Homo sapiens: one gene and its partners. The protein of the gene in region 4 purifies or fractionates together with the protein of the main gene of each other region. This does not show direct contact. Each region holds a gene or a part of one and is shown on either strand. Other genes may lie near its edges. The genes, in order: IFT81, IFT46, IFT56, IFT80, IFT25, IFT88 and TRAF3IP1.

Region 1 (4,994 bases), on a different chromosome or scaffold from region 4:
CAAATGAGTTAGAGGAAACAAATTCATTATGAAAACTGATAAATAATGATAAAAACAAAGCATGTACCCTGCCTATCCTATATGAACTATAACTCAGGATAACCAAATAGTTGATGAGAGGTTTTCTCTTTATAAAAGTAGTCCAGGGCCAGGCACGGTGGCTCACACCTGTAATCCCAGCACTTTGGGAGGCCAAGGCGGGTGGATCATGAGGTCAGGAGTTCAAGACCAGCCTGGCCAAGATGGTGAAACCCTGTCTCTACTAAATATACAAAAATTAGCCAGGCATGGTGGTGGGCACCTGTAATCCCAGCTACTCAGGAGGATGAAGCAGGGAATTGCTTGAACCTGGGAGGCGGAGGTTGCAGTGAGCCGAGATCGCACCACTGCACTCTAGCCTGGGTGACAGTGAGACTCCATCTCAAAAGAAAAAAAAAAAGTAGTCCAGCTAATAAATGAAGAAGGAATCAAAATATGAATATTTTATAATTTATAATAAAATTAATGGATAAGCAATGAGCAATAATAGTAAGTGGCTGCTCAGACAACCGAGCATTATCACTTCCAAATAAAAGTATGTAATACCACCTAGAAAGTTTTCTTGCCAAAAAAAAATCAAACCAGATCTGTTCAAGCTCCTAGTTCTAATTTATAGGAAATACGGGAAACAAATGAACATGGTAAAACAACACCATAGGGTTGCAATCAGTAAAACACAAACTGTTAGAAATATCATGGGAAAAATGAACCAGTTTTGTCAACACATATATTGCCAAAAAGCACTAAATAGATAAATCGATGGGAAGAGAACATATGGATTAAAAGAGACAAACTTTCTGGGACAGATAGGTGACAGCAAAAAATAAATAAATAAATAAATAACTTATCAGCCAAATGCAATATATGAATCCTATATGGATCTTAATTGAAAAAAAGAGAGACAAGGGAATGTCATTGATTTCCTGGCTGACTGAATATTTTCTGATATTAAGGAATTATTAAAATTTTCAGATGTGGTATGTTGTGGTTAAGTTAAAAAGCCTTTATCTTTTAGATATATATTCTGAAACATTTATAGATGAAATGTTATGATGAAGTCTAAGATATGCTTCAAAATAATATAGTTGGGGTTGGCAGTATAGAGGAAACAAGAATGGCCATGAGCCCTGTAGCTCAGGGACACATGAGGGTTTATTGAACAATTTGCCTCTACCTTTGTAATTGATTGAAATTTTCCGTTATAAAGGTTTTAAAAAATTCTAATGTCCTTAAATAATGCTTTGTTATGTAGCTTAGTATTTTCTGAGGTTGTAGAGTGCTCTTCACACTAAAATCCTCCTGCCTTGGTTCTTTTCAGATAAGCCATGGCCTTCATTTGAATCTTTTATAGAAATATACAACAAGATAAGTACCCTCAAAAACTAAGTGACAATTTAGTTGTGGATAAAATAATAAATGCTTTAGCACTAAAATTTAATTTATTCTACACTTGCAAACTAACTTTAAACTTGAAAAAGCATACTGTTATTAACTCATTAAAAATTATAAATATTTTTATTTATACCACCTAAGGTAAGTTTTCATTTTAAAAATAAATTCCACAGTCACAGATACAAACACAAATAGCTCTATTACCACAGTTCGTACATGCTAAGGAAACTAAGCATTATTAGGGGTATCGTAATTTCAAACTTGAATAAGCATCTTTTGTGGCTTTTCCACTAATTCTTTGATATACTATGGAGATTAGCAGTGACAGAACAACATTTATTCTCTACTTCCTTCTCACTTTAAGACTATAGATAACACAGCCAGTGGTTCATGAATATGCTTACAGATCTAAATATGTGAGCCAAAAGAATGTTCTTACCTGTTGCCTATACAGTGAGAGTTTGCCTTCAATGGGCTCATTTCTCATCATTTTCTTTTCAATCAACTGGTTAATTTCTGTGTTTATTTCATTTATCTAAAATAGCATGAAAGCAAAAAAAAAAAGTTAAAACTTTCCCTATAAGTACACAAACTAAGTGACGTCTGGCCAAACCAGCTTTGAATTTATGGTTCTTTTTTTTTAAAGACAAGGTCTCAGTTTCACCTAGACTAATTTTTTTTTTAAGAGATGGGGTCTTGCTATGTTGCCCAGACTGATTTTGAATTCCTGGGCTCAAGTGATCCTCCCACCTTGGCCTCCCAAAGTGCTGGGATTACAGACGTGAGCCATGGCACCCATCTGGAATTTACAGTTCTTAACATTAAGTCTCTGATGGGCAAAACAGTTTCATTAATGTTATGGGGAGCTTGTTATGATTACCTTTAGAAACAATTTACATTTCATGACATATAATTACACAGTTTGATTACTTATATAGATTTAATCATCTATGTCTAAATTATCCTAAAGTATTTTACATGAAATATTTATACATTACCACAAAGATGCTTTCTAAAAATCTGAAGTTATCCCCTCACCTACGTTGTGACTTCAAGTCACTGAAAGTGATAAAGCAAATGTGAACAAATATGCACCAGGGATTTATTACAATGATTCATGAACCCAGCTGACAGTTGACAGGGATAACACCCTTCCTGTGCTAATAATCTGTGATTCTTCGATAACTATCATTTATCCTAATCATTAATCTAAATCTTTCCAAAATGTAATAAAACTGAATAAATCTGACAGAAGCATATAGTTCCTCAACATATCAAAACAAAAACCATGGTTTTCAGTGTATCCATCCTTTGAAAGATTAGAGTTCTCTCTAACCCTAACCCTAATTCTGTGACATTAAATTTTAGCCAGATTAGGCCGGGCACGGTGGCTCACATCTGTAATTGAAGCACTTTGGGAGGCTGAGGCGGGTGCATCATCTGAGGTCAGGAGGTCGAGACCAGCCTGGCCAACATGGTGAAACCCCGTCTCTACTAAAAATACAAAAAATTAGCTGGGCTTGGTGGCATGCACCTGTAGTCCTGGCTACTCCAGGGGCTGAGACAGGAGAATCACTTGAACCCAGGAGGTGGAGGTTGCAGTGAGCCGAGATCGCACCACTGGACTCCAGCCTGGGTGACAGAGTGAGACTCCATCTCAAAAACAAAACAAAACAAAACAAAACAAAATTTTAGCCAGATCTGACTTGGACATTTAATTTTTCTAAGTAAATTAAAAGAATAAAACAGTCAGGCCTGGGCGCGGTGGCTCACACCTGTAATCCCAGCACTTTGGGAGGCTGAGGTGGGTGGATCACAAGGTCAGGAGTTAGAGACTAGCCTGGCCAACACAGTGAAACCCCATCTCTACTAAAAATACAAAAATTAGCTGGGCATGGTGGCAGGTGCCTGTAATTCCAGCTACTGGGGAGGCTGAGGCAGAATTCACTTGAATCCAGGAGGCAGAGGTTGCAGTGAGCCGGGATCACGCCACTGTACTCCAGCCTGGGCAACAGAGCTACACTCCATCTCAAAAAAAAAAAAACAAAAAAAACCAAAACAGTCAGAATTATGTATTTAATTGTAGTGGCTATTAACCACATAGTAAGCACACTAAAGAATTAGCAAGTCAAAACATTTCAATTAGGCTGAGTGCAATGGCTCACACCTGTAATCCCTGCACTTTGGGAGACTGAGGTGGACGGAGGCAGGCAGATCTCTTGAATCTGGGAGGTCAAGACCATGCTGGGCAACATGGCCAGACCCTGTCTGTACAAAAAATTCAAAAATTGGCCAGAACTGGTGGCATGCACCTTGTAGTCCCAGCTACTTGGGAAGCTCAGGTGGAGGATCACTTGAGCCTGGGAGATGGAGGCTGCAGTGAGCTGTGATCATGTCACTGAACTCCAGCCTAGGTGACAGTGTGAGACTCCGTGTAAAAAAAAAAAAAAAAAAAAAAATTAGGCATAGTGGTGTGCGCCTGTAATCCCAGCTAGTCGAGAGGCTGAGGTAGAAGAATCGCTTGAACCCAGAAGGTGGAGGTTGCAGTGAGCTGAGATTGTGCCACTGCACTCCAGCCTGGGCAACAGAGCAAGTTCCGTCAAAAAAAAAAAAAAAAAAAAAAAGGCACTGCACCTGACCTAGCATTTTAATTCTAGGGAACAAAAATGGTATAATCAGGCCAAGCACAGTGGCTCACACCTGTAATCCCAGCACTTTGGGAGGCTGAGGCGGGCAGATCACCTGAGGTCAGGAGTTCAAGACCAGCCTGGACAAATGGCAAAACCCCGTCTCTACTAAAAATAAAAAAATTGGCCAGGCATGGTGGCACATATCTGTAGTCCCAGCTACTTGGGAGGCTGAGGCAGGAGAATGGCTTGAACCCGGGAGGCAGAGGTTGCAGGGAGCTGAGATCTCACCACTGCACTCCAGTCTAGGCAACAGAGCAAGACTCCGTCTCAAAAAACAAAACAAGTCCTGGTGCGGTGGCTCATGCCTGTAATCCCAGCACTTTGGGAGGCTGAGATGGGTGGATCACAAGGTCAGGAGTTTGAGACCAGCATGACCAACACGGTGAAACCCTGTCTCTACTACAAATACAAAAATTAGCCAGGCGTGGTGGCGCGTGCCTGTAATCCCAGCTACTCAGGAGGCTGAGGCAGGAGAATCGCTTGAACTCGGGAAGCGGAGGTTGTAGTGAGCCGAGATCACGCTACTGCACTCCAGCCTGGGCAACAGAACGAGACTCTGTCTCAAAAAAAAACAAAAAACAAAACAACAACAACAAAAACAACAACAACAACAAAAAATTAGCCGGGCATGGTGGTTCGTGCCTGTAATCCCAGCTAGTTGGGAGGCTGAGGCTGGATAATCACTTGAACCCAGGAGGCAGAGGTTGCAGTGAGCTGAGAAGATTGTGCCACTGTACTCTAGCCTGGGCAACAGAGCAAGTACTGTCTCAAAAAAAAAAAAAAAAAAAAAGGTATAACCTGATACCAGCTTTCAATAAGCATTACAATATTTAGTAATTCCAAGGCAGGTATACAAGGTTAATAAAAATATTA
Region 2 (3,939 bases), on a different chromosome or scaffold from region 4:
CATGATCTGCCTGCCTGGGCCTCCCAAAGTTCTGGGATTACAGGCGTGAGCCACTGTGCCTGGCTAAACACCCTTTGTTAGAAATAACTAGCATGGTTTCAGACTTCCTGACTGGAGCTTGGCTGACATAACTCCAAAATATTTACTGAATCTGTCCATCTCTACTACTGCCACCCCAATCACCTCTCACCTGGATTACCGCAATAGCTACGCTCCCTGAGACCAGAACCAGACAGGTCTGGAGCCAGACAGCCTCAGGAAGGCGGCATTAACTGAAGAGAGACCCTTAGAAAAATTAAATTCCAGAGGAAAAATGATTCCCCTCGACTGCCAATCTTGGAGGATTGGGGTTTCATTTTATTTCACAAAATTTGTTTGCTTTAACTACTCTTCATTTAATGCCCATTACTAAGCAAAGTTCCTGTGTCTCTGCGTTATGCTCAGTCAGCCTTTTCTCTTTCATATTAAATAGCAGAATAATCTGACAATATAATAGAGCATTTGATTTATAAAATCTTTACTCACTAACTTTACGAATGAAAGAAAACAATTCCATCCCTCTCACAAAAAGGACATCTTTTAAGCTTTCCTCCCAATCTAACCTCCATGGGATCTCAGAAATTCCAATTCTTATAACTCAAATCCCCACAGTGGTGTAGATGCATTAACTCCCCGGGGACAGCAATCTGAGGCAGGCAGGTTCATTAAACAAACATGTTCTGTGCCCTCTGGCAGAGAGGGCAGCAGGACATGCACTGCCCCTGAGCCAAGCTGTGGCATGGGCAAGGACATCAAGTAGCTGACAACGATCTGTCCATCTCAGCTGGGGCAGAGGGGCCAGCTCAGCCTTGAAACAGCAGCTTGGGAAGTGTCTCAGCTGAAGGTTAATGTCTCCATGTCTCCAGCTTGGGAGGTGGAATTGGATGAAGGAGTGAATGCTTTCTTGCCTTCAGCGAGAGCTTTAAAATGCTGCAAGGAAGAGGAGAGGGAATATTGAGTATTAGGGATATGCTAATTGCTATATTTTAACAAGAATTAATTTCTTTAAAATGAACCCCCTTTATTTCCTTCCTGCTTCCATTCATGAGGGAACTTGGTTCTGAAAGAACGAGTGTCCTCTGTAGATCCTCACCTGATTTCATCTAAGGCCCACAACTCCTACTTCCACCCACCCTTTTTTTTCCTCCACTTTCCCCTTGAAAACTCCATCCCTGCCTCCTTTGCTCTCCTAATTATGGGAAAGGGCGAAGGTAACTGGGCAGAGACATCCTACATCGCTATAGGATGCAATCACAGCAGGCTCAGAACAGTAGAAACTATAGTGATCCTCTCTACAGCTTAAGTCAACCCCTGATGCTTGGCTCACCTGTGAGTTCTTGAATTCTGAGTAGAGGGAAAAGAGCAGATGGAGGGACTGGATCCGACTCTTGTAGACAGGGATGTCTAGAATGGCTGAAACGAAGAAGAACTTCCAGGAACAGAAGCAAACAAACTCCGGGAATTAGAGGCCCTTCTGTCTAGCACAGGCAAAGCCCTGGCAGATGGGGTGTCGCTATGACTTTGGGGGTTAAATACCCAGCAGGTAGTCACATAAGCCAAACACCACCTTTGAGTGCTGCCAAAGAGCACAACGGGCTTAAAGTGAAGGCTGAAACTCAAGATACTATCTTCCCAGAGTAAACAAGCCTGTCCAAAAGCCTAGAGTGTCTCTATCCAGAGATGGGGACGAGGAAAGGAAAGAGGAACTCACCACAGATCATGTCAATGTACTCTGCCAGGCTGCAATCAATCTCTGCCGTGGGCAGGCTTACCTGGAAGGGGCATGGAAGGACCAAAGTCAAAAGGATGGTGTCAGTGGTCCCAGAACCACTCTCTCTCTCTGAAGCAAAAGAGCTTCTAGCATAAGACACAGGTTATGGGCTGAAATGTGTTCCCCTAAAATTCAGATATTGAGTTCCTAACTCCCTGTACTTCAGAATGTGACTATATTTGGAGATAACATCTTTAAAGAGATAATTAAATTAAAACAAGGTCATTAGGGTGGGCCTTAATCCAGTATGACTGGTGTCCTTATAGGAAGAAGAAATCAGGACAAAGACGCATAACAGAGGGAAGACCATGGGAAGACACAGAAGATGGCCAAGAAGAGACCCCTCAGAAGAAATCAATCTTGGTGGGGCGTGGTGGCTTCACGCCTGTAATACCAGCACTGTGGGAGGTTGAGGTGGGCAGATCGCCTGAGCCTAGGAGTTCGAGACCAGCCTGGGCAACATGGTGAAATTCCATCTCTACAAAAAAATTAGCCGGGTGTGGTGTTGAGTATCTGTAGTCCCAGCTACTTGGGAGGCTGGGGTGGGAGGACTGCTTGAGTCCAGCAGGTTGAGGCTGCAGTGAGCTGAGATTGAGCTACTGCACTCCAGCCTGGGCATAGAGTAATACCCTGTAAAAAAAAAGGAAGGAAGGGAGGGAGGGAATCAACCATGCCAACAAATTGATCTTGGACTACTACTGGACTACTAGCCTCCAGAACTATGAAATAATACATTTCTGATGTCTAAGCCACTCAGTCTATGGTACTTTGTTATGGCAGCCTAGCAAAATAATACAACATGCTATTTTTTCCCCCGATCAGTATGGAATTGGTCATATGTTTTATAGGTAAAATACACTGCCATACTCTTTTCCTGTGGGAATCTGTGAAAAAGAAACTGATACCAAGTTATGGGCAAGTATTAACAGTTATATATGCATTACTTGGTGTTATAATGCCTAATGATTCCAGGACACCATATGAACAGAGAAAATGGGCATGACATCTAACTCAGGTAACAGGCTCTGGATCTAAACAAGTCACAGTGTGAAGTTTTTAAACTACTGGTTTCTTAAAACTTTTCTCTTTTTACAAAAAACAGAGTACATATAGTTCTGCAACTTGCTGCAATTTGCTTTTTTCATTTAACAACATATCACTGATATTTCTTCATATTAGAGCAAAATAAGGCCAAATAATATTCCATTGCATAGTATTTCACTGAATGGATGTACTGCAACCTAGCTATTCAATCCCCTAATCAGACACCTTCCCCTCAACTACAGCTTCAAAATGCTCTGAGGAAAGAGACTGTTTCCAAATTCTGTGTGTTTACAATCAATTCTTCATATACAAAAAAAATCTGTCTTTGTAGAGCTTACATTTTAGTAGGGAAGAACAAAATAAGTAAATAAAGTCTATGGTATGTTAGAAGATAAGTGTTATCAAGAAAAAGCAGGGACAGAGGGCGGGGAATGCTGGGGAGCTGGTGCAGCAGTTTAAACATGATGGCTAGGAAGGACCTGTTGGTCATCTTTGTTCAGTTTCCTTTTCTGTTTTGATACTTTAAAAAAATTCTTTTTTGAGACGGAGTCTTGCTCTGTTGCCCAGACTGGAGTGCAGTGGCATGATCTTGGCTCTCTGCAACCTCCACTTCCTGGATTCAAGCAATTCTCCTGTCTCAGCCTCCTGAGTAGCTGGGATTACAGATGTGCGCCACCAGGCCCGGCTAATTTTTTTGTGTTTTCAATAGAGACAGGGGTCTCACCATGTTGGCCAGGCTGGTCTCAAACTCCAGACCTCAGGTGATCCACCTGCCTCAGCCTCCCAAAGTGCTGGGATTACAGGCATGAGCCACCGTGTCCAGCTCCTTTTACTTTTCTTTTCTTTTCTTTTTTTTTTTTTTTTTTTTGAGACAGAGTCTCACTCTTTCGCCCAGGCTGGAGTGTAGTGGCGCTATCTTGGCTCACTACAATCTCCGTCTCCCGGGTTCACGCCATTCTCCTGCCTCAGCCTCCCAAGTAGCTGGGACTATAGGCGCCCGCCACAGCGCCCGGCTAATTTTTTGTATTTTTAGTAGAGACGGGGTTTCACCATGTTAGCCAGGATGGTCTCGATCTCCTGACTTC
Region 3 (4,994 bases), on a different chromosome or scaffold from region 4:
TTTTTTGTATTTTTAGTAGAGATGGGGCCATGTTGGCTAGGCTGGTCTCAAACTCCTGGCCTCAAGTGATCTGCCCGCCTTGGCCTCCCAAAGTGCTGAGCCACAGCGCCCGGCCAGAAGCATTTGGTTTTAAACATAAGCATTTGGTTTTAAATGTAGGGCATCTCAGTAAAATCATCTACAATTTAATGGACATAACACAGATAATTCAGAAGTCAACATTCTTTTTAGAATACCTGATAAACATATAATTAGGTTCTTATAGAATCACAGTGGCAATGATAAAGGGATATTAATCAAGAGTTACAGATAACAGAGTTTCATGAATAACTTGGAAAGTATAAAGTAATTCAAATTGGAATGAAGTACATTAAAAACACACTTCCATCAATACCTCAGCTGCTCTGCCATTGTAAAGGCGAAAATGGTTACAGGCTTTAAGATTGAGTGCGATGGTACTATCAGGAATTTGCTGAAGGTAAACAGCCAAAACTTCTTGAGACACATCATAGTAATCCAACTTGTAGTAGCAGAGGGCCACATAAACATTAAGGGCAAGGTATTCCCTATTAGATGAAAGAATTAGGGTTAACCATTTAAGTCTACTTCACGGAAATGTCAAATTACAAAGCTCAAATGGACAAGGCAAAGAGGACAGTTCATGAACCTGCCTTATGAAGAAAGAGGGCAAGATATGATCAGTATAATTTTTTTCTTTTTGCATTGCAATATTTGGGTGTTTTGATATAAGTAGAATGAAAGATGACTAGAGAAGAAAGGGAAAGTTCACGCTGTTCACACTGAAAAACTAATATATGCAATAATTGAACATAAACACAAGCACACTCCACACAGAAGACCAACAGACAAGACACATAGGCTTGATGGCTGGAAATGGAAGCAGGTAGGAGACTAAGAAGGTAATGCAAAAGAGGATGGAAAGAAGGGGGATGAGATATTTTTGGGAAGGGAGAGAGAGGCCAAGTGTTTAAAGTTGGAATGTAAATTCTTAAGAATGATTTGTATCTAATTTTGTCAGCAAGTTACCTACGATGTAACTATAACACTAAGTTTGATACATCTAGACCATACATTTCAACTGGGGTAATATCAGTATTACCCCCAAAGGGGAAAAATTGGTTCTTAATGGGAGGATGAAAAAATCATAATCATTTTATATGTAAAGCACAGTTATACATATAGTACATATATGGATATATATTAATATACATCTATCAGTATATTAAAATTTCATGGGAGGGCAATTGGGGGAAAAAGTCTTTTAGAAGGGTGACAATGCAAAAAAAGGTAGAGAAAGCCTGATTTAGACAATATCTAATTCTTAATCTCACCAAATTATCAACTAAACAGATTTGAACACATAGTGGTACTAGATCCAGAGGACACTAGATTCTCAAACTAGTTAAAGAAGAAACTAACAAAATGAAAGGAATGGAGAGTGGGCATAAAAGGACACAGACCTGTTATCTAGCAGTATTCGCTTATATATATCTATAGCTTCTTGGTAGTGAGATCGCATATAGTGGATTGAGGCCAAACTGAGTTGATCTTCTGTGACATCCTGAAGATTTTGATGAAAGCTCATCAATTTTTTCTCATCATTAAACTAAAATTGTGAGAGTGGAAAAGACATGTAAAGATTCATATTAGTGTTGTTAGAGAAATCAATATCTATGTGATAGAGATTTTAACTCTTCCTTCTTTAGCCATTGTGTCTCTCTCTTCTTCCTATTTCCCTTAGGTTCTTTGTCTTCTACTTCATTTCTCCTGCAAAGAAACAATGGAAATAGCCTCTGGAGGCATAGCTTGACAACGACAATGGAAAGCCCTTAGGTTACAGTTAATACTATTTGACCCTTCCCCTTATCTTTTCTTTTTCTTTATATTTTCTCCCTTTCCTTTTCTTTTTCTGTCTACTCTCTTTACTATTACCTGGTAACATTTTTAATCTGTTCTTTCTTTCTTCTTTTTTTTTTTTTTTTTTGAAACGGAGTCTTGCCCTGTCCCCCAGGCTGGAGTGCAATGGCACGATCTCGGCTCACTGCAACCTCTGCCTCCCAGGTTCAAGCAATTCTCCAGCCTCAGCCTCCCAAGTTCCTGGGATTACAGGCGCATGCCACCACGCCCGGCTAATTTTTTGTATCTTTGGTAGAGATGGGGTTTCACCATGTTGGCCAGGCTGGTCTTGAACTCCTGACGTCGTGATCCGCCCACCTCAGCCTCCCAAAGTGCTGGGATTACAGGTGTGAACCACTGTGCCCAGCCAATCTGTTCTTTCATATCTCGTTCTTCTTGGTAGACAATAGGGAATCAAAATGTATTTCTCATCATGTAACCTAGTGTATTCAATTTTTAATTTCCTGCTCTACATTTTTTCATCCTTTCTTCAGTTACTATATATTGTTGTTGTTTGAGATTGTCAGAATTCTATTCCAACCTTGTAATGCTTATTTTGTTAGATGGCTGCCGCAAATATTAGCTGCCTTTTGCTTATATATGGGGCAGAACAGATATATTTTTGACAGTGACCCTTAATATGTAGATTGCTCACTCCTGCCTGTTACAGAGAATGACTTATTAGCTTAAAAATTTTGTAAAGAATTGTCTTCTGTAGACTATCTAGTTACATGGAAAAATGTTCATGATACATTTTTAAGTGAAAAGCCTGGTTATAAAACAGAATATATACTATGATACAAATTTGGCAATATAAATATACACATATATACACATATAAAAATACAAATTTTTTAAAGACTGGAAGAAAAGAGAGTAAAATATTACAGTGTTAGCTCTAAGTGGCAGTCTTACAGGAAATCTTGATTTTTGTGTGTATGCAATTTGCTATTTTCTAAAAGTACTATGATGAACATGTATTATTTTTGTAATCAGAAGAAAAACACAATAAAATATATTTCTTTAAATTCAATCAAAGACTTTCACTACTAATAATATTAGAGTAGCTTGTAGTATGCAGTGCTCCCACCAAGAACATCTAGAAAATCTTAAAAACTACTGAAAAATCTGTGTAAAAGGGGCAGGGGCAGTGGCTCACGCCTATAATCCCAGCACTTTGAGAGGCTGAGGTGAGCAGATCACTTGAGCTCAGGAGTTTGAGACCAGCCTGGGCAACATGGTAATACCCTGTCTCTACAAAAATTGGCTGGGCATGGCAGTGCACACTTGTAATCTCAGCTACTTGGGAGGCTGAGGCACAAGGATTGCTCAAGCCTGGGAGGCAGAGGTTACAGTGAGCTGAGATGGCGCCATTGCACTCCAGCCTGGGTGACGGGGAGTGATATCCTGTCTCAAAAAAACAAACAAAAAAAATCTACGTGAAGGGTTCAGAGAGCTACCAAGTGAGTGAAGACTTGAGATACCAAGATCCCAAGCAGAACAGAAGTGCAAAGAGGTGATTCTGATATTTAGTACCATTTTTTTCTCTAATGGTACCTATCAATTCTCAATTGGTGGCTGAGTTGCTGAAAACTAAGCGAGCTTCAAGAAGTCTTATGGGCTTAATGGACAAAAAAATAGAGATTGGGGCCCACCAAGCTATCAGTTGGGACCCCTGGAAAGCTACCCTAGAAACAGAGGTAAAATGGAAATAGACCAGCTTTAAATTGTTGCAATCTCTGACAGGTATCAGTTGATTTGCCCCTTTTCTATGTGCCTGCCAGAAGTAAAAGTAAATTCTAAATCCTCTCTGGAAGAAGACAAAAGCATCCAGAGACTCGAATTATCTCTCTATATTTTAATATACAATAGCCAGCATTAAACACAATATTGCCAAGCAAACCAGGAGATAAGAACATTTGACTGAAAACCAGGAAACAGCTGTCCAGAGATACACTATTGGAATTACTAGACATGGACTTTAAAAATAACTTATTATCAATATATTTAAGAAATTAAATTAAAAATTAGGAAATTTTAACTGGAAATTAGAAATTTAAAAAGTAATAAAATGTAAATTCTAAAAATAAATACAATAACTGAAATTAAGAACGAAATAGATAAATGGAATAGCTGGTTAGACACAGCTGAAGAATGATGATTAGTAAAATAAATTTCTGTGGAAATATACAGAAAATGTGACAAAGTGTTTACATGCGATACAAACAAAAGGTCTACATACATACATACATACATATTACTGGGAGCCTAGAAGGAAAGAAGAGAGTATAGAGCAGAAGCAAAATTTGAAGTAACAATGACCAAGGATTCTTTTAATTAAAAAAAGAAAAGACCTCGAGCAAGCACTATGAACCTGATGTAGTGTAATACAAAGAAAACCATATCTGGGAATATTATAGGAAAAGTGCTAATAACAAAAACCAATGTATAAATCTTAAACATGATCAGAAAAAAAATCTTCATAGGAGCAACAATTAGACTGATGGCTAACATCTCAGTAGAGACAAGGACCTAGGAAGCAATAAAGCAACATCTTCAAAATGCTAAGCAAAAATAATTACCTACCTAGAACTCTACACTGAGAAAAAAATCCTTTAAAAAACCATAGTCAAATAAAAATATGTTTAGACAAAAACTGAGAGAATTCATCACCACTAAAGGAAATATTAAAGGAAATTCCTCAAATGGAAAATGATTTCAGATAGGAGCACAAACATGCAAGAAGAAATGAAGAGCAATGGAAAGGAAAAATATGGCTAATTATAAATGAATATTAACTGCATAAAACAGTAATAAAACAGTCTTATGGGATTAGAAACATATAGACACTTAAAATATTTTTCAAATTTGCACATAAGATGGAGAGTAAATGAGTTTAAATGATCTAAGGTCCTTTAATTTTTCTAGAAATTGGTAAAAGTACTAATCAATATCAAACTTTTTAATATGCAAAATACACATGATATGGTAACTGCTAAAATAATATTCCCAATGTACATAACTAGCAAGCAAATCGAGGATAAATATATAGTTTTAAAAATCAATCCAAAAAAAGG
Region 4 (3,370 bases):
ATGTGCAGCCAAGTCAGACACAAGTGTGAGTAGCCTGGGGACTCTGATTGTGGCTGGAGTCTAAAATAAGGGCAGTCTTAGGGCAGGTGCGGTGGCTCATGCCTGTAATCCCAGCACCTCGGGAGACCGAGGAGCACGGATCACTAGAGGTCAGGAATTCAGGAGTTTGAGACCAGCCTGGCCAACATGGTGAAACCTTGTCTCTACTAAAAATACAAAAATTAGCTGGGTGTGGTGGTGGGCACTTGTAATCCCAGCTACTTAGGAGGCTGAGGCACTAGAATTGCTTGAACCCGGGAGACGGAGGTTGCAGTGAGCTGTGATGGGGCCACTGCACTCCAGCCTGGGTGACAGAGCCAGACCCTGTCTCAAAAAATAAATAAACAAATAAATAAATAAAGGCAGTCTTTTTGGGAACCTTGCCCTTTAACTTGTGGGATCTGTTTCTAATTCTAGGTAGTTAGTGTTAGAATTGGATTGAATTCTAGGATATGAGAGAATTGTTTAGAACACAGACTTTTTATTTTTTGCATTTATTGTGGTAAAATATACATAACATAAAACCTTTTAACCATTTATTTTTAAACATTTTAAGCTTCTTATTGAAATATAACAATATAGGAAACACATACACAGTACAACTTGTAAGTACACTGCTCAATCAGATTTCATCTGGATCAAGAACAGAATATTCCAATATTCCGGAAAAGAAAAGAAACATGTTAAAAAGAAAAGATTTTTATTTAAAAAACCTAGACATAGTAATTAAAATGGGGGTTAAGAGAGGTAATCTCTCTATCCCTTTGTGTGTGTGTGTATATATATATATATCATACATAATCCCATATCTATGCATCTATACCCACCCTATAATGTACCATTTTCAGAAATGGGTTTGCAGAAGACTTTCTAAGGGGTATTTGTTTTATTGTTTAAAAGATTATGTGGTAATAACTTTGGGATACACTAAATAGAGTAATCAAACAAGTTTGTCACCCAAGGAAATTTTCACAAATTCAGACTTCAGGGCCTATTGACTGATCATTCTCAAGTCAAGAGAGGAATGAGGAGAATCCTTCTTGCCCATTCTAGATATATTTTTTAAATTATGATAAAATATACATAACAAAATTTACCATTTTAACCATTTTTATGGGTACAATTTAGTGGCATTAACATTCAAAATGTTGAGCAACCATCATCGCTATCCATTTCCAGAATTTGTTCATCCCAAACAGAAACTATGTACTCGTTAAACAATAACCCCACCCCCCATTTCCTCCTCCCTGCAGTCCCTGGCAACCACTATTCTCCTTTCTGTTTCTGTGAACTTGCCTATGCTGGTACCTCATAAAAGTGGCATCATATTTGGCCTTTTGTGTCTGGCTTATTTCACTTAGCATAGTGTTTTCAAGGTTTATCCTGAGGTAGTATTTATCAGAATTTCATTCCTTTTTAAAGCTAAATAATATTCCATTGTATGTATTATAGCACATTTGTTTATCCATTCATGATAGACACTTGAGCTGTTTCCATCTTTTGCTATTCCAGTAATGCTGCTATGAACTTGGTGTATAAATAGTGGCATTTTATACATTTGTACAAATCCATCCTCATGTATTTTTGTTCTATAAATAAACTTTTGGAGGCATTTTACAATTTAGAGGTCAAATAGAAATTAATGGTAACATACATTTCAAAGAGTCCAATGTTTTATTATCGACATTAATATTTGTTCATGCTGAAGATTTAGGGATGAAGTAATGGGCAAAAAACTGACATATAATCGACACTACACAGGTATCTCTTAAGTACATAGTAATATTTTGCTAATTATTGGACTAAAAAATATAAAAGATAGAAATACATCAATTACTTTGTGTTTCATCTTTCTGCATGTACTTTTACACTAAATACACAGCAAGTACTTATACTCGGTTAAAGATTATGCTTTTTTCTTTAGCAACCAAAACATGCTTACCCTTGGTTAATCAGAACGTGTTTCAAAAGATAAAATTTCTTAAAGATACGCATGGCATTTAGGGCTTTAAACCTATACTCTTGCTGGATTGGCTGCTTGATGATTGCTCTCTTTCTTTTGTAATTTCCATCTCAATTTTGGCTTTGATTTTCTCCCAATCTATTTGGAGCTGCAATAGAAAAAAAAAAGAAGAAATATGCTTAGATAGTGTAAGACATTTTTGTTTACTCCAAAGTAACTAAGAGTAAACAGATAGACTGTGTGACTTCCAAAAGATTAGAGAAAAAGAGAGCATCAAAAGATTAGAGAAAAAGAGAGCATCAAAGTTAAGAAGAAGAAATAATGCTTGGCCAGGCATAGTGGCTTACTCCTGTAATCCCAATAGTATGGAAGGCTGAGGTGGGTGGATTGCTTGAGTCTAGGAGTTTGACAACATCCTGGGCAACATGGCAAAGTTCCGAGATGGGAAAATAAATACAAAAAATAAAAAAAGTAGCTGGGTGTGGTGGCACACACCTGTAGTCCCAGCTATTAGGGAGGCTAAGGTGGGAGAATCAACTAAGCCCTCAAGGTCAAGGCTGCAGTGAGCCGTGATTGCACCATTGCACTCCAGCCTGGGTGACAGAGCAAGGGCCCTGTCTCAAAAAAAACAAAAACAAATAATGCTCAAAAACCACAAAGTAGTTTTAAGAATAAGACCAAAAAATAAGAATTATATAATAAAAAGCAAAGACTCTCATTGTGATTTAAAAGACCAAAATCTAGTCACAGCTATTTATAAAGGTACATCTAAACAGTCCCATGGAGCCTTAGGATTGTGTACACGTGCTCAGGGACAAGGTAGGGGATGAGATGGACCGCTGTCTTCCAAACGAGGAAAAAGTGGACCGGACTCTGGTTACCAAGCCATTTTTCAAATAGGCTTCACATCTTATATACTGCAGTTTCCACTGGAAGCCTAGTTATGAGGAAAGACAGGGATTCATTAGCTTCCCCTAAGCATATTCTGTGAAAGTGGCTCCTTTGCACCAACTCTTAAAGTAAGACATGGTGGTCATTAAGACAATGAGGAAAAGATGTTAGAGAAAGCGAAGGGAAAGCAAGACTGGGAAACACATGAAAAGAATAACTGCAAAGTGCAAACATTTTTATTTGTTTGCTTCCCTTCTATCCGTTATGCAGTCTCCCCTCCCCTAGCCCAGCCCTATTCCTCTCTTAAGTTCATTAGACTTGTTAGGAATAGACTCTGCCCCTGAGTTCTATGAGCAACTTCTTTAGGAAAGCACATTCTACCAGTTAACAAAGTTTGGAGATCACTAATTTAGGAATGTTTATCCTTTCTGAGGCAAGACATGGAAAAAATTGGGTCATAGATTAAACTAACTCTGA
Region 5 (4,994 bases), on a different chromosome or scaffold from region 4:
TTTTTCAATCCATTGCTCAAAATCAACTGGCTCTTTAGACGTGCTTTTTTCAATCTTCAAGGTCTGTACTAACATTGTAAACAAAGTAAGTAAAGTGTTAATCTGGCTGTATGTTTTTGTCCCTATATTTCTTTTTCCCTCTGCCTGAGATTATCATGCACAGTGGAACTACACAGAGCACTGGGATCAGAAACAACATGGAAGTTACTCTGTATGTTTCCAAAAAACCCTATGGTAAAATATAGTCTTGTGTAACTAATCTTCCAAATGTTCGCAACCATACAACACAGAGCAAGTAGAGCTTTTCTGAATTTGGCATTGTTCCGATTTTTTTGTGTGTATGGCGATAATACTACTATTGGTGGTCTTGGTCATAAACATTTATGGAGAGCCTATGATGAGTCAAACATATTTATCCATTCACTTTTGACTACAATCTTATGAGAAAGGTACTTTAACCCACTTTACTGGTGAGAAAACAGGTTTAGAGGAGCCAAGCAAGGTGTTCAATGATATACAGCTCATAAGTGCCAGAAATGGAATTCAAACTTTAGGTATGACTCTAGAACCTCCACGATTAATGAGAGAAGAGACTTATCAGGAATACAGTCATCTTCCTTCTAAACTGGTTTTTCTCCACTGCTCCAGTCCAGTCTCTACCACTCCAGATCCATTCCTCCTCTTCTTTGTCCTGTTCTGTGCCATGAGGGGCTAACCTCTGTGGACTCTATCACCTGGATTCATTTACCCACTGGCTTCTGATTGGATTGGATTTGGCCAGTGGGAGACACCAGGGGGAGACTGGGGTGGGGAAGGGAGATCAGCCAATTTTATCTCCACTCCCTCCCTGCTTCAGTGTGACATCTTTGACAGTTTCTCCTGCCTACAGCTCCTATTAGGCCCTTTTACACAGGCTTCAGCTCTCACAGATCTCTGATAACACTATTTCCTTCCCTGTGCCAGGGCTAGTTACAGCTTCCTGCTATAGCTAGTTTCTGAGGGCCTCATCATTCCTTGCCTTGTTTGTTCCCTTAACCCAGGCCATAATTTTGCAAGTAGCCCCATCAATAGAGCCTCTTCATTTGAACCATCTGGGATGTATTCTGTTTCCCGCCATGATTTTGTCTGATACATTTTATCTTTAAATAAATAGGATTAGAATGATGTCCCAAGGGAGATTATCCCCCTAAATTCCTGAGAAAATGCCACTAGTAATAGAAGAATCTCAACTATCCAATGTAAATAATCAGAGTTATCAGATTTTCAACAAGAATTTGACAAATAACTCCAGGACAAATGAATCTAGAATAAAGATGTCATGGAATAGTGTTCTAGCAAGCTGGAGTCTTATGTTCCTAATAGGGCCTTTTGCCAAAGACTTTTACATAGTAAATTGCATGGAAATTATTATGTGCTTTGGAAGGGTTTCGAATTTGCAGTTTGAGAGAGGCCAACTGAGCTCAAGGCATTTACCTCATAATCCCCATCCTTTCACCCCAGCAATAAAACTGGATTCCATGCTATAAAGAAAAACTAGTGTTTTGCCAAAAGTTTACATATATGCCTTCTGCCTGTGGAAAAAATGAAAGGATAATGAAAACTAAAATATTAGCCTTACCTGGAGCACCAAAAAAAAAAAAAAAAAATTAATGTAAGATTTGCTTACCAAAGTAACTTTGGATTACAAGCCTTTCAATCCTTACATGTTTGTGGAAACAAATAATGAATTCCTGGGGAAACATTCCTGTGGTGGTCCAAAACGTTTCTGGATTCCTATTGTTAATTTTAAAGAAAAAATAAGAATAGCCAAATATAAATGGTTAATCATAAAATTTTATTGAATACCTGTTTTTTAAAATTAAATGACTACTGGATTCTCACATCTCCTTTCTGTTAATTCTGCCTCTAATCTCTCTCCAACTTTAATAATTCTTCTTTACTACTACCAGGTATTCTTTTCTAAAACACAGAAACGGAATTGATGTCACTTCTATCTAAATGCCTCAGTGGTCCCTTTATTGCCTATAATTCTAAACTCCTTCGTATGGCATTTAAGACTGTAGGATCTGGTTCCACCATTAAGTTATAGTCTCTTCCATCACTGTGGTCACACTGGGCCACTTAAAATTCTGCAAATATGTTAGGCAGGCTCTTGCTTCTGTACCTTAGTTCATTCATGAGGTTTTTTTTTTACCTGAAAAACCGTTCTTCCCCTTGCATAAGTTCATTCACTTTCTGGTCCCATTTATCTAACCCCACCAAATCAGAATCACTTCCTCCCTCTTTTGCACTTATCTCATACTCAGCCTCCATCTCTACATTGGCACTTAATCTCCTGTGTTTCTATGGCTCCCACTAGATGCTGAGCTCTGAGTCCAGTTTCTTTCTCTTACTCACCTTTGTAACCCTACAACTGCTACAATGGCTCACCCATAGTAGACACATGCTAAATGTTTGTTCAAACAAAAATTAAAACATGCACTCAATTTTAAGTCATATATAGGCAAAATAGTATATATTATGGTTTTGACTACAGAAATAATCATTTCTATTTTAACTATATAAGCTTTTCTTTTTTTGGAAGTAAAATTTACCTACAGTGGAATTTACCTTAAGGGCATAACTTAGTGAGTTTTGATAAATGTATACGCTTATGTAACCAATACTCCAATGAAAATACAGAACATTTCCGTGACTCCAGAATTTCCCTTATCTTTCCTTCCAGACAATCCCTACCTCCCTTAGGCAACCAGTGCTCTGATTTCTATCACCACCAACTATGCTACAATGTTTCCATTCGTGATTTTGTTTGATATTTTTGTTGGGTATTTTAATTGCTTGCAGCTTTTTACTATTAGGAACAAAGCTGCTCTAAGTATTCTTGTACAAGTGCTTGTGAACATGTTTTCATTTCTCTGGGTAATTACTAAGAGTGGAATTGCTGGGACATAGGGTAAAAGTATATTTAACTTTATAAGAAACTGTCAGCTTTCCAAAGTGGTTGTACTATTTTGCGCTCCATTTTCTTTCTTGTCATGTCTTTGTCAGGCTTTGCTATCAGGATAATGTTGTTCTCATAAAACAATTTGGGAAATGTTTCCTTCTCTATTTTTGAGAAAGTTTGTGGAAGACTGGTATTTCTTCCCTAAATATTTGACCGAATTTAATTTCCATAATAGATATGAGGCTGTCCAGAATTTCCAATTGATCTTGTGTTATTTTTATAGGTCGAGCTTTACAAGAAATCTGTCCATTTCATCTAAGTTGTCAAATGTATTAGCTTAAATTTGTTCTTTATATATGATTCCTTTAGAATCTGTAGTGATATTACTTTCATTCCTGGTTCTAATAAATTGCATTTTCTTTATTTCTTGGCTAATCTTGTTAGAGGTTTATAACTTTTATTAATCCTTACAAATAATCAACTTTAGGCTTTATTATTTTTTCTAATAATTGTCTATTTTGTTGATTTCTGCTCTCACCTTTACTATTTATTTTCTTCTATTTACTTTGGGTTTAATTTGCTCATTTTTTTCTAGCTTCCTAAGGTGAAAATTTAGATTATTGGTTTTACATTTTTTTCCTTTTTAACATAAGTATATATGCTATTACTTTCCCTTGAGACACTGCTTTAGCTGCATCCTACAAATTTGGTATGTTACATTTTCAACGTCATTCTGTTAGAAATACTTTCTAAGGCCAGGCATGGTGGCTCACTCCTGTAATCCCAGCACTCTGGGAGGCTAAGGAGGGTGCTCACCTGAGGTCAGCAGTTCAAGACCAGCCCGACCAACATGGTGAAACCCCGTCTCTACTAAAAACACAAAAATCAGCCAGGTGTGGTGGCACATGCCGGTAGTCTCAGCTACTTGGGAGGCTGAGGCCCAGGAGGCAGAAGTTGCCATGAGCTGAGATTGCACCACTGCACTCCAGCCTGGATGACAGAGGGAAACTCCATCTCAAAAAAAAAAAAAAGAAAGATTTTCTAAGATCCCTTCTGATTTCTTTTTTGACCCATGGGTTATTTAGAAGTGCAGTGTTTAATTTCTAAGTTTTGGGGGGTTTTCTGAATATCTTTTTGTTGTTTATTTCTAATTTAATTACACAGTGGTCAGAGAACATACTATCTAAGATTTTAATCTTGAAATATATTGAGACTTATTTTATGTTTCAGCACATTTCAGTGAATGTTCAATATGCTGGGTTTTAAGAGACAGAGTCTCGCTCTGTCACCCAGACTGCAGTGCAGTGGCACAATCTTGGCTCACTGCAGCATTGACGTCCTGGGCTCAAGCCATCCTCATGCCTCAGCTCCAAAAGGAGCTGGGACTACAGGTACACGCCACCATGACTGGCTAATTTTTGTGTTTTTTCGTAGAGATGGGGTTTTGTCATGTTGTCCAGGCTGGTCTCACACTCCTGAGCTCGGGCAATCCGCCTGCCATGGCCTCCCAAAGTGCTGGGATTACAGGCGTGAGCCACCATACACAACCCATCAATACATTCTTGTTCCATGTTGTTGATTATAGTGTTCTATAACCGTCAACAAAGTCAAGGTTATGACATTATTCAGATCATCTATGTCTTTATTGATTTTCTGCCAAATTGTTCTATCATTACTGAGAAAAGGGTATTAAAATCTCTAACTATAACTGTGAATTTGTCTATTTCTCCCTTTCATCTGTCAGATTTTGCTTTATGTAGTTTAAAGAACTATTATTAGGTCCATATACACTTAGGATTATCCTCTCTTCCTTTTTCTCTTTTTTTTTTTTTTTTTTGAGGCGGAGTCTCACTCTGTCGCCCAGGCTGGAGCGCAGTGCACAATCTTGGCTCACTGCAAGCTCCGCCTCCCGGGTTCATGCCATTCTCCTGCCTCAGCCTCCCGAGTAACTGGGACTACAGGCATGCGCCACCACGCCTGGCTAATTTTTTTTATTTTTAGTAGATACGGGGTTTCACCATGTTAGCCAGGATGGTCTCGATCTCCTGAC
Region 6 (4,282 bases), on a different chromosome or scaffold from region 4:
CACGCTGGCTCATGCCTGTAATCCCAGCTCTGGGAGGCCAAGGTGGGTGGATCATGAGGTCAAGAATTCGAGACCAGCCTGGCCAACATGGTGAAACCCCGTCTGACTAAAAATACAAAAATTAGCCAGGTGTGGTGGTGCGTGCCTGTAATCCCAGCAACTCAGGAGGCTGAGGCAGGAGCATTGCTTGAAACCAGGAGGTGGACGTTACAGTGAGCCAACATTGCACCACTGCACTCCAGCCTGGGCGACAGAGTGAGATTCCATCTCAAAAAAAACCCAAACAAACAAACAAAATATATTTTCCATCTCCCCACCAGAATTTAAGCTTCTTGAGGGCAAGGTATAGTTCTTTTTCACTACTGTATCCCCCAAATTTTAATGAATTCTCTGCACATACTGGATGTTTACTGTATTTGTTGGCTGTCTCATCAATTAGAGCATAACCTACTTTGGGAGCAAGGAATGTGGTCTAGTTTTGGTTTTCCTCCCTCGCATCTAACAGTAGCATGCACGTTGCAGAGACAATGGTAAGTAAGATTGAGGGGTCCATTCTCTTTGGTATAGTGTTAGAGATAAGCCACTGCTTCTGACATCCTCGTCATTATAATTCCTCTGGAGACTCTAGACCAGCCAAACACATTGTTAAAGAAAAATGCAGGCAGTCCTGCCCCCAACCCACTAAGTCACAAATGGGAAAAGCCATCTTAGAGTTGTTACTGCTCTGTGCTATTGGTGCACACCCCCGGGCTGAAGTAGAAAGGAACTTCGGAAAGGAGCACTAGGGTTATGGTTTGGTATTTAATCCCATTACCCTTTATACTGCTTCCAAAACATAATTGTTTTAATAGTGTTTCTAATCCCCACAAGGCAAATCTTCCAAAGAATTTCCAAACTCCAAGCAATTTAAGTATGAATAGAAATTGTGCCTATGTCCACACAGCATTTTTCAATCTGCAAGCCATGAAATCAATGTAGTGGCTTCACTACTAGCACTTTGTTTGAATGAAACTATAGAAAATATTAGCATGTATTGCAATAATAAGGGTAAATTTTTATGACTACATACACATATATGTACTAGGTTGTGTTATGAAATTTATTTCTTCCTGTGTGTCAATGTTTTCAAAAAGCTAAGGAAGTCACTGGCCTAAAGTATTAGTTTTACCTGTTTTTATTCCTTAAAAGAAAAAAACAACTTAAATGCATACATACAGAATAGAATACACTTACTTAAGTTTTGACAGTGAAAAAAAATAATTACAGGTTAGATATTTAATCCAAGGTTTAACATGAGGATGATCTCATAAGGCAATTTCTTTCCTTTAATAAATATTAAAGTGAATATTATTCTGGAAGCAAATCATCTCCTAATTCTTCATCAGCAAAATCATCCTCATCGATCCTTTTCTTGGCTGCAGTTTTTGGTCGTTCTATTTGAGGGCCAAGTGGGTCCACATAGGAGGCATCTAGGTTTCGAAGAGATTGTCACGTTAGAGTTATGTAAACAAACAAAACAAATGTGAAACCAATCAGGCTCATAGTCAAAATGAATAACTCAGAGTGAACAGAAATGGTCTCCCAAGTCATTTTAAATTTTATCTGTAAATATCAAATTCTTAAGAATTCCCAGCAACACCTTTTGGCCATCTCACCATTCTTCTTCAGACCTGCTATGCCTGGAGGAACTGGGTGGAGAGTACTTGCCTATTTCTTTGTTACTGCTACTTTCATAAGGTTCATTTGTCCCAGGTAAAGCTCTGAGTCTGGCACTTAGTCGTTCACCTTTACTACTGGCACTATAGTTCTGGCCACTATCTGAAAACACGAAAATAAAAATGCATTTGTTTAATATGTTGAGAAAACATAAAACTACATTATGCATCTTAAAGCATACTTATTTGCCAAGAAACAAGCAGGTTGTTTAATTTGGAAGCCAGCTTCTTAGGGATATAATTCTTGTTTTCTGAAATTTAAAAGAAATATCTTGTGGGAATCTATAATATAGATAAAACATCACTTAAGAGTAGTCTGTATATGTATTCTTTCAAATGTGTGCTTACTTATAGGTTTCAATTTTATGGAAGAACTTAAGAGAAAGTAAGAGATCACCCTGACTCTTATAATTGCCCAAATAGGCAATGGCTGCCTTAGGAAAAAATGTAATATGTATCACTGAGGATTTTCAGATAAAACTGAACACTAACATTAGTAGGAAATGTTAGTAGTACTTTTTAACCAGAAATTTCTGTGATATTTTCTAAAAGTACTCCTCTAGCCCCACAGTTTTCCTTTCTTCCCCTTAGAATTCCTAGAGTGATATTTTTTCTATTATGTAAGCCTCACTTTTAATGAGAGTAGTCCACTGATAAACACACTGACCATTTCGTTTTTGAATATAGTTTGTCTTTTAGTTTACTGATAATGTCTCTGGGAATAAATCAGAACAAGATGGTCTTTAAAATCCCCACATTTTAAGATTGGCCAACTGACCCAAAATAGTAAGTCTTCTCTAAGGTTCTTATCCAAAACCTTACCATTTCCCCTACCACTGATGTTACGGGAAAATAAAGCTCTTTAGTGTACTGAATATGTCTACACACTTTAGTATATTTTACATTATTTTGTCCCTCTCTTTTTGTTAAAACAAAAGTTAATTTTTTCCATGCAGAAATGTATACGGGTGTCTTTTAAACTGCCTGAGTGAGCTCAAGTCAATAAAGTTTGAAAAACATTGCTCTAGGGATATTTCTTTTACTTTTTTTTTTCTGAATAATGTATATCCTACCTGTCTCCAAAAAGGTTTAAGATAAGCCACCAAATATATACACAATAACTATATAGCAATCTTTTAAAAGATGAATGAGTATGTGAGAAGAAAAGTTTGGGTGAGAAACATAAAACAAAGTTGGCAGGGAGTGGTCCAAACAGGCCTTCTTGCCTTAGGGTTTGCAGTCAACGAAGGGCAAGGGCATACACAGTTCTTTGACTCATGGGTACATAAGATATGACAACCAATGTCTCCACAAAAATGTAGGTGTTCTCATTACAGAGATAAGATGGAAATGCCTCACAGAACTGCTCACTGAGGAATACTGTGGAATGTCAGAAACACATCCTCATTAGTAAATACGACAACGTTATTTCACTTTTTACACAGATGTAAATTACCAACAAAACCCTGATAGCTCCCTCAGGCACCCAAAACCCTTCTGAAATCCAAATCCAAATTCCTAGCCTGAAAGATTCAAATTTTGTGGAAAAAGCAAACCTTTAAAAAATAAAACCTGGGGCCGGGCACGGTGACTCACGCCTGTAATCCCAGCACTTTGGGAGGCCAAGGCAGGCAGATCACGAGGTCAGGAGCTCGGGGCCAGACTGAGCAACATGGTGAAACCCCGTCTCTACTAAAAATACAAAAATTAGCCGGGCGTGGTGGTGCACACCTGTAATCCCAGCTACTCAGGAGGCTGAGGCAGAAGAATTGCTTGAGCCTGGGAGGCAGAGGCTACAGTGAGCCAGATCGTGCCACTGCATTCCAGCCTGGGCTACAGGGTGAGATTCTGTCTCAATAAATAAATAAATTAATTAATTAAATAAAAATAAAGTGCTTATATAAAAAATAAAACTTGGCTGGGCAGAGTGGCATGCACCTATTATCCCAGCTGCTTGTGGGGATGAGATGGGAGGATCACTTGAGCCCTGAAGTCCAATGCTGCAATGAGCTATGACAGCACCACTGCACTCAGCCTGGGTGATACAGCAAGACCCCATCTCTAATATAAATAAATAATAATTACAATATTTGTAGTCTTTGAAGATTGGACTCTATAGTTTCTGTTGTTGCTTACTCTTAGTGACTTATTTCCTCATGCATGCATACTTTTTCTTAACTGTAGGTTCTTATTCTTTGGAACTTAAAAGTGCATTCCTCCAAGGAGGATTTAAGTTTATTTCTTGTAGGCACCTTGTAGCCTCACCAACTGAAGTCCACTTTAAATCAAATTTTCAGCTTGGTGTTCTTCAGAACACACAGATATAATATGTATTCTAGCTCCAAAACTATGTGAGTGAAGGCTTACTTATGGTTAGGAATTATCAAAAGAGCTCTTCTTGTTTTCTACATTAGAACCAAGGTGAAAATCCATCATCTGTAGGGTGGCCTCTTTTCTTTTGAGATGGAGTTTCGCTCTTGTTGCCCAAGCTGGAGTGCGATGGTGTGATCTTGTCTCACTGCAACCTCCACCTCCCGGGTTCAATCGATTCTTCTGCCTCAGCCTCT
Region 7 (4,994 bases), on a different chromosome or scaffold from region 4:
CCAGGGGCTGGGGTACGGGAGAAGAGGAAGTTAGTGTTTCATGGGGACAGAGTCTGTTTTGCAAGGAGAAGAGTCCTGGAGATGGAAGGTGGTGATGGCTGCAGATGAATGAATTTACCAGCACTGAAGTGTACACTTCAACATGGTTAAGATGGCAAATTTTATGTTTTATGGACTTTAACACAATAATAAAATTATGGGTAAAAAACCACTGATCTGATTCAAGCCCCATCAAACGCAAAAATTCCTTCTCCAGCATCCCCGACAGCCATCCAGAGTGCAGGACACCTCAGTCAGGAGTCCCACTGACTCACGCACTCATTCCACAAGCACATGCTGCGTGATTGCCGCGTGCCAGGCTCCATTTAGGCCAAAGACACACCGTGTACTGGGGACACAGATAAACACAACAATTAAACAACAGCCTATAGGAAGCCTACAGGGGCACCTAAGTCAGCCTGGGAGGGAGGAGAGGCCCAGGCTCAAGGAAGCACTCACAGACGCCACATTGTTGCTGGGTGAGGCTGGAGGAGGAAGGCAGCTCAGGTACCAAGAAGCCAGCAGGCACCAGGGCAAGAGGCCGACGGGAGACAGCCGGCCAGGGCCGAATGCAGGGGTGCGTGGCGACTGGAATGGAGGGCTCAGATATGGGAAACGAGAGAAGGATCTGAAGGGAGAGAAGTAGCAGCAGGTCTCTAGGAGCCTCACAAGCTGTGCCATGGAGCTGGCCCAGACCCGAGGCTACTGGAAGCCGGAGATGATTCAGCAGAGGAGACAGGAGCCAGATGTGCTTTTTAGAAAGATGAGAAACATAAAGGACCCGGGAAGGGGAGCTGGGGAGCCTAGGGACAGAGGCCAGTGTACTGGCAAGATCTGCTTCCAAGTCTCTAAGTTTGCATGCTGGACCTGCACTGGGGGGGCCTCCTAGGAGTCGGCCTGATACCACTATGCACCTCCACTACCCACTGCTGTTGAGGGGGCTGAAACCTACCTGTTCCCATTTGGGTCACATTTAAGGTTAGCCCCCAGCCAACCACCCACTAGGTATGTGAAAAACTGTATTAATTACACTCTCAATACAAGTCCAACCTGCTCCTCCACAGGGCACTACTCGGCCCTCAAAAGAAGGAAGACCCTGGGGAAAGACCTTCTCCAACATTTGGGCAAACATGGCCCAGGCTGGACCTAACTAGAGAAGCCTGAGGCCTTGACACCCAAGTTTCTAGCCCACAGTGAAAAGCTCAAGAAAGAAAAAATCTACTCCCCGTACAACTGAAACAGCAACCGAGAGAGAGAGAAAAGGTGGAAGAGAGAGAGGAAGGGCAACAGGCAAGCAGACACCAGAGGCTGGAGATGGAGGAAGAGAACAGAGACTCCCATAAGACCCAGGGAAGAAGAAAAGCAGCTCCTGCAGCCACTGCAGCCCTGGCTGGAAGCAGCCACCTGTCCTCAAGGGAGCCTCAGAAAGGAGAAAGCCAGAGGGCATGGAAGCCTGGGCCTGCAGCCTCCAGCCTCCAGCCAGGCACAGTGTGCCTGCAGGGTTCCCGACTTTCTACTGAAAGCTTGCAGAACTTGCGTATTACATACCCTTATTTGTTTTATCATTCAGTATTAAATTACTCCTTCTGTATCTCTGGGGCTCCAGAAGGGGTGGGATCAGATTCAAAGCACAGTGTTTGACAGACACCACTGAAACTCCTTCCCTAAACCGCCCGCACATGTGAGTCCCTCACCCCCGACTACTTTTTACTCAAGTACTAAGTAAGTTCAAAATGCCAGGACAGCAGTAGTACCTTGTTGAGACAGCATTTTCCAATTATCTGGAGCAGCTCGTTTGTTCTTTCAGGCTCATGCCCCGCCACGATTCGGGCTGGTTTGGCCAACAGTGGCTCTCCCGACACCATTACAACCACGTCTATGGCCTTTTGTAGGAAGCTAATTTTTGCATCTTTATCCTGAAACATTTCCATTGAAAATACAAATATTACAATACTTTGAAGAGTGTGCATTATCTTCTGTATGTTTACCAGGCATAGGATAGTTTCTGTTTACATACAAAGCTGTTTTTAGATATATAACAAATCTAGAAATACTGACCTTTTACTGACAAAACAAAAACAATTCATTAAAGCCTTTAATTTAGTTGATGGGCTAGCATTAACCTTTGAAATACTAATCCCATTTTTCAGTGAATAAAACTAGCATGACATCCAGTTGCCACAATGAGAAAATGAAATGAGAAAGGGTATATATATCAATTTACGAATTCACTGACCTTGTATTCCAACCACATGCAGCAGAGAAATGACACAAGCCACACTACCAGGCCTACAAAAAATCCCATCCGTTAAGGCGAGGAGTCAATAGGAGAAGCCCGACTCAAACCCACCTTCACATTATCAGACTTCATCTCGGCGTCTGTGTAGAGGCCCTTCATGAAACCAGTCATTCTAATCACCTTCAAGAGAGAAAGAAAGGCCACCATGTCACCTCACAGACAGCCTCCTCATCAGCCTCATCCACTCAACTCCACACTTGGGAGATGTCAGAATTGACTAGCAGCCCAGATTTGAATCATCCACTTAAGAAATATTTGATGTCTACTACACGTGCTGTGCAGGGCAGAAGCCAGCCAGATCCTCTCAGAACTTAGTCTGGCTGTGTGGACAGACAGGTAAAGATGACACCATGCAGGTACTAAGGAAGCACTCAGGCTTGGTACCTAATCCACAATCCGGGAGGGAGCAGGAGTGGCAGGGAACCCTTCCTGGAGGAATCATACCTAGATGGGGACCAGGCTTACAGAAGAGTTGGGCAAGGGGACATTTCGGATGCACATGCCAAACATAAGAAAGTCCACACGGCTGGGTGTGGTGGCTCACACCTGTAATCCCAGCACTTTGGGAGGCTGAGGCGGACAAATCACAAGGTCAGAAGATCGAGACCATCCTGGCCAACATGGTGAAACCCTGTCTCCACTAAAAATACAAAAATTAGCTGGGTGTGGTGGTGCTCGCCTATAGTCCCAACTACTGGGGAGGCTGAGGCAGGAGAATCACTTGAAGCAGGAAACAGAGATTGCAGTGAGCCGAGATCGTACCACTGCACTCCAGCCTGGCGACAGAGCCAGACTCCGTCTCAAAAAAAAGAAAAAAAGAAAATGAAAGTCCACACAAGGTCCAGGACCCACAGAGTCCCCTGCAAGGGATCAAAAGAAATGTAGGACAGCAGGAGCCTGAGGCCAGAGAGACACTCGGGGCCTGGTGCAGAGGCCCTGTGAAGCCACTCAGGGACATGAACTGAGCTGAAGGACCACGAGGAGGACCTGGAACGGCATTTTACAAGAGTCCTTCAGGTGCAATGGAGGGAACAGATTCCAAAAAGAAAAGGAACTTTGGCTGGGCACAGTGGCTTACACCTGTAATCCCAGCACTTTGGGAGGCCGAGGTGGGTGGATCACTTGAGGTCAGCAGTTCAAGACCAGCCTGGCCAACAAGGTGAAACCCCGTCTCTACTAAAAATACAAAAATTAGCCAGGCATGGTGGTGGGCGTCTGTAATCCCAGCTACTCAGGAGGCTGAGGCAACAGAATTGTTTGAACCCGGGAGGTGGAGGTTGGAGTGAGTCAGAATCATGCCACAGGACTCCAGCCTGGGCAACGCAGTGAGACTCTGCCTCAAAAAAAAAGAAAGAAAAGAAAAGGAATTTCTCAACCTAGTTTGCTAAGACTAGAAGTTCTGCAAGGGTCTTTCTCCTCACCACGTGTCACTACTCACTTCTTAAGATGGTGGCAGGCTCCACACCTCACTGCTTTGGTTCTCTCCCTAATCATCCCTTCCCTCAGGTAACCTGTACCTCCTAATTAGCCCTAAAACCAGCTTTTAGGGCAATTATTTTTCCTGTTCCTCTCAACCACCACACCCAGCCAGGGTCCTGGGTTGTCTCAGACTGCAGTTTTTTGAAATGTGGTAGGTTACTGTAAAATCAATACAATTTGTAGCAACAAGCATTTTGAATAGCTGGGACCCTTACCAGCAGGCTGCATGGTATGTGGTAAGGACAGGTATGCTCATAGCCACATATCCTAGGTCAGCTAATAAAGCATATTTATTACGGGAAGACATGTTTTAAAAACAAGACAGTCCCACCCTAATGAGAGCCTCCTCTGGAATCAAGCCACAACTCCTTAATTTGCATCAAGTTAGGTATTAATGAATCTAGGAGTTTTCATTCCACACCACACTATGTAAGAGCTATGCTACTGTTTTTCTTGAGATGACAGGTAGAATATTAAGAGCATCCTGCATTTAACATTCCTGGAACATTTTCATTTTGTCCCTGTTGAGGTTTTCCCAGGATGCTGGCAGTTAAAATTGTGAGCAATAGGCTGGGTACAGTAGCTCACACCTGTAATCTCGGCACTTTGGGAGGCCGAGGCAGGCGGATCACCTGAGGTCAGGAGTTCGAGATCAGGCCGGACAACATGGCGAAACCCCATCTCTACTAAAAATAGAAAAATTAGCTGGACATGGTGGCATGTGCCTGCAGTCCCAGCTACTCAGAAGGCTGAAACAGGAGAATTGCTTGAACCTGGGAGGCGTAAGTTGCAGTGAGTGGAGACTGTGTCACTGCACTCCAGCCTGGGCGACAGAGCAAGAATCCCTCTAAAAAAAAAAAAAAAATTGTGAACAATAACTGTAAGTGACAAGAGACATTAACGTCACAGTATCCACACTTAGCTTAATGAAACGGGGTGGTTAGTGTAGCTATAGCTAAAATACTAATATAGCAATGTGTGTATAATATTCAGTACAGTAAAGCATTTTCATAAGAGGCTCTCCACCTATTATCTGAAAATCCTTTCCAATATGTCAGTCATTCTAACAACTTTATCAAGTAGGTCATAATTTATTTATCTTTACACAGGGAGAGAAATCAACTTTGGCATTAGATGAGGAAGTCTATGGGAGAAGAGCAGACCAGTCGTTCCTAAT

What was found.
Region 1: the proteins of IFT80 (region 4) and IFT81 purify together in Homo sapiens (affinity purification with mass spectrometry; one large-scale study listed by BioGRID and IntAct). This does not show direct contact.
Region 2: the proteins of IFT80 (region 4) and IFT46 purify together in Homo sapiens (affinity purification with mass spectrometry; 2 studies listed by BioGRID and IntAct, with this or other methods). This does not show direct contact.
Region 3: the proteins of IFT80 (region 4) and IFT56 purify together in Homo sapiens (affinity purification with mass spectrometry; one large-scale study listed by BioGRID and IntAct). This does not show direct contact.
Region 5: the proteins of IFT80 (region 4) and IFT25 purify together in Homo sapiens (affinity purification with mass spectrometry; 2 studies listed by BioGRID and IntAct, with this or other methods). This does not show direct contact.
Region 6: the proteins of IFT80 (region 4) and IFT88 purify together in Homo sapiens (affinity purification with mass spectrometry; 2 studies listed by BioGRID and IntAct, with this or other methods). This does not show direct contact.
Region 7: the proteins of IFT80 (region 4) and TRAF3IP1 purify together in Homo sapiens (affinity purification with mass spectrometry; one large-scale study listed by BioGRID and IntAct). This does not show direct contact.

The regions. Positions count from the first base shown.
Region 1 is NC_000012.12:110,143,925-110,148,918, reverse strand, and holds part of IFT81 (intraflagellar transport protein 81 homolog), read right to left. Parts: intron 1,967-4,994; coding exon 1,871-1,966; intron 1-1,870. UniProt on the Homo sapiens protein: Component of the intraflagellar transport (IFT) complex B: together with IFT74, forms a tubulin-binding module that specifically mediates transport of tubulin within the cilium. Binds tubulin via its CH (calponin-homology)-like region.
Region 2 is NC_000011.10:118,544,043-118,547,981, forward strand, and holds the end of IFT46 (intraflagellar transport protein 46 homolog), read right to left. Parts: intron 3,245-3,939; exon of another isoform or gene 2,106-3,244; coding exon of another isoform or gene 2,077-2,105; intron 1,812-2,076; coding exon 1,751-1,811; intron 1,453-1,750; coding exon 1,367-1,452; intron 970-1,366; coding exon 874-969; 3' UTR 501-873; downstream 1-500. UniProt on the Homo sapiens protein: Forms part of a complex involved in intraflagellar transport (IFT), the bi-directional movement of particles required for the assembly, maintenance and functioning of primary cilia. May play a role in chondrocyte maturation and skeletogenesis.
Region 3 is NC_000007.14:139,143,778-139,148,771, reverse strand, and holds part of IFT56 (intraflagellar transport protein 56), read right to left. Parts: intron 1,789-4,994; exon of another isoform or gene 1,628-1,788; coding exon 1,482-1,627; intron 567-1,481; coding exon 395-566; intron 1-394. UniProt on the Homo sapiens protein: Component of the intraflagellar transport (IFT) complex B required for transport of proteins in the motile cilium.
Region 4 is NC_000003.12:160,256,486-160,259,855, forward strand, and holds the end of IFT80 (intraflagellar transport protein 80 homolog), read right to left. Parts: intron 2,151-3,370; coding exon 2,040-2,150; 3' UTR 501-2,039; downstream 1-500.
Region 5 is NC_000001.11:53,928,373-53,933,366, forward strand, and holds part of IFT25 (intraflagellar transport protein 25 homolog), read right to left. Parts: intron 1,774-4,994; coding exon 1,667-1,773; intron 1,572-1,666; exon of another isoform or gene 1,474-1,571; intron 69-1,473; coding exon 1-68. UniProt on the Homo sapiens protein: Component of the IFT complex B required for sonic hedgehog/SHH signaling.
Region 6 is NC_000013.11:20,688,241-20,692,522, reverse strand, and holds the end of IFT88 (intraflagellar transport protein 88 homolog), read right to left. Parts: intron 1,819-4,282; coding exon 1,708-1,818; intron 1,470-1,707; coding exon 1,348-1,469; 3' UTR 1,079-1,347; downstream 1-1,078. UniProt on the Homo sapiens protein: Positively regulates primary cilium biogenesis. Also involved in autophagy since it is required for trafficking of ATG16L and the expansion of the autophagic compartment.
Region 7 is NC_000002.12:238,322,770-238,327,763, reverse strand, and holds part of TRAF3IP1 (TRAF3-interacting protein 1), read right to left. Parts: intron 2,459-4,994; coding exon 2,390-2,458; intron 1,956-2,389; coding exon 1,794-1,955; intron 1-1,793.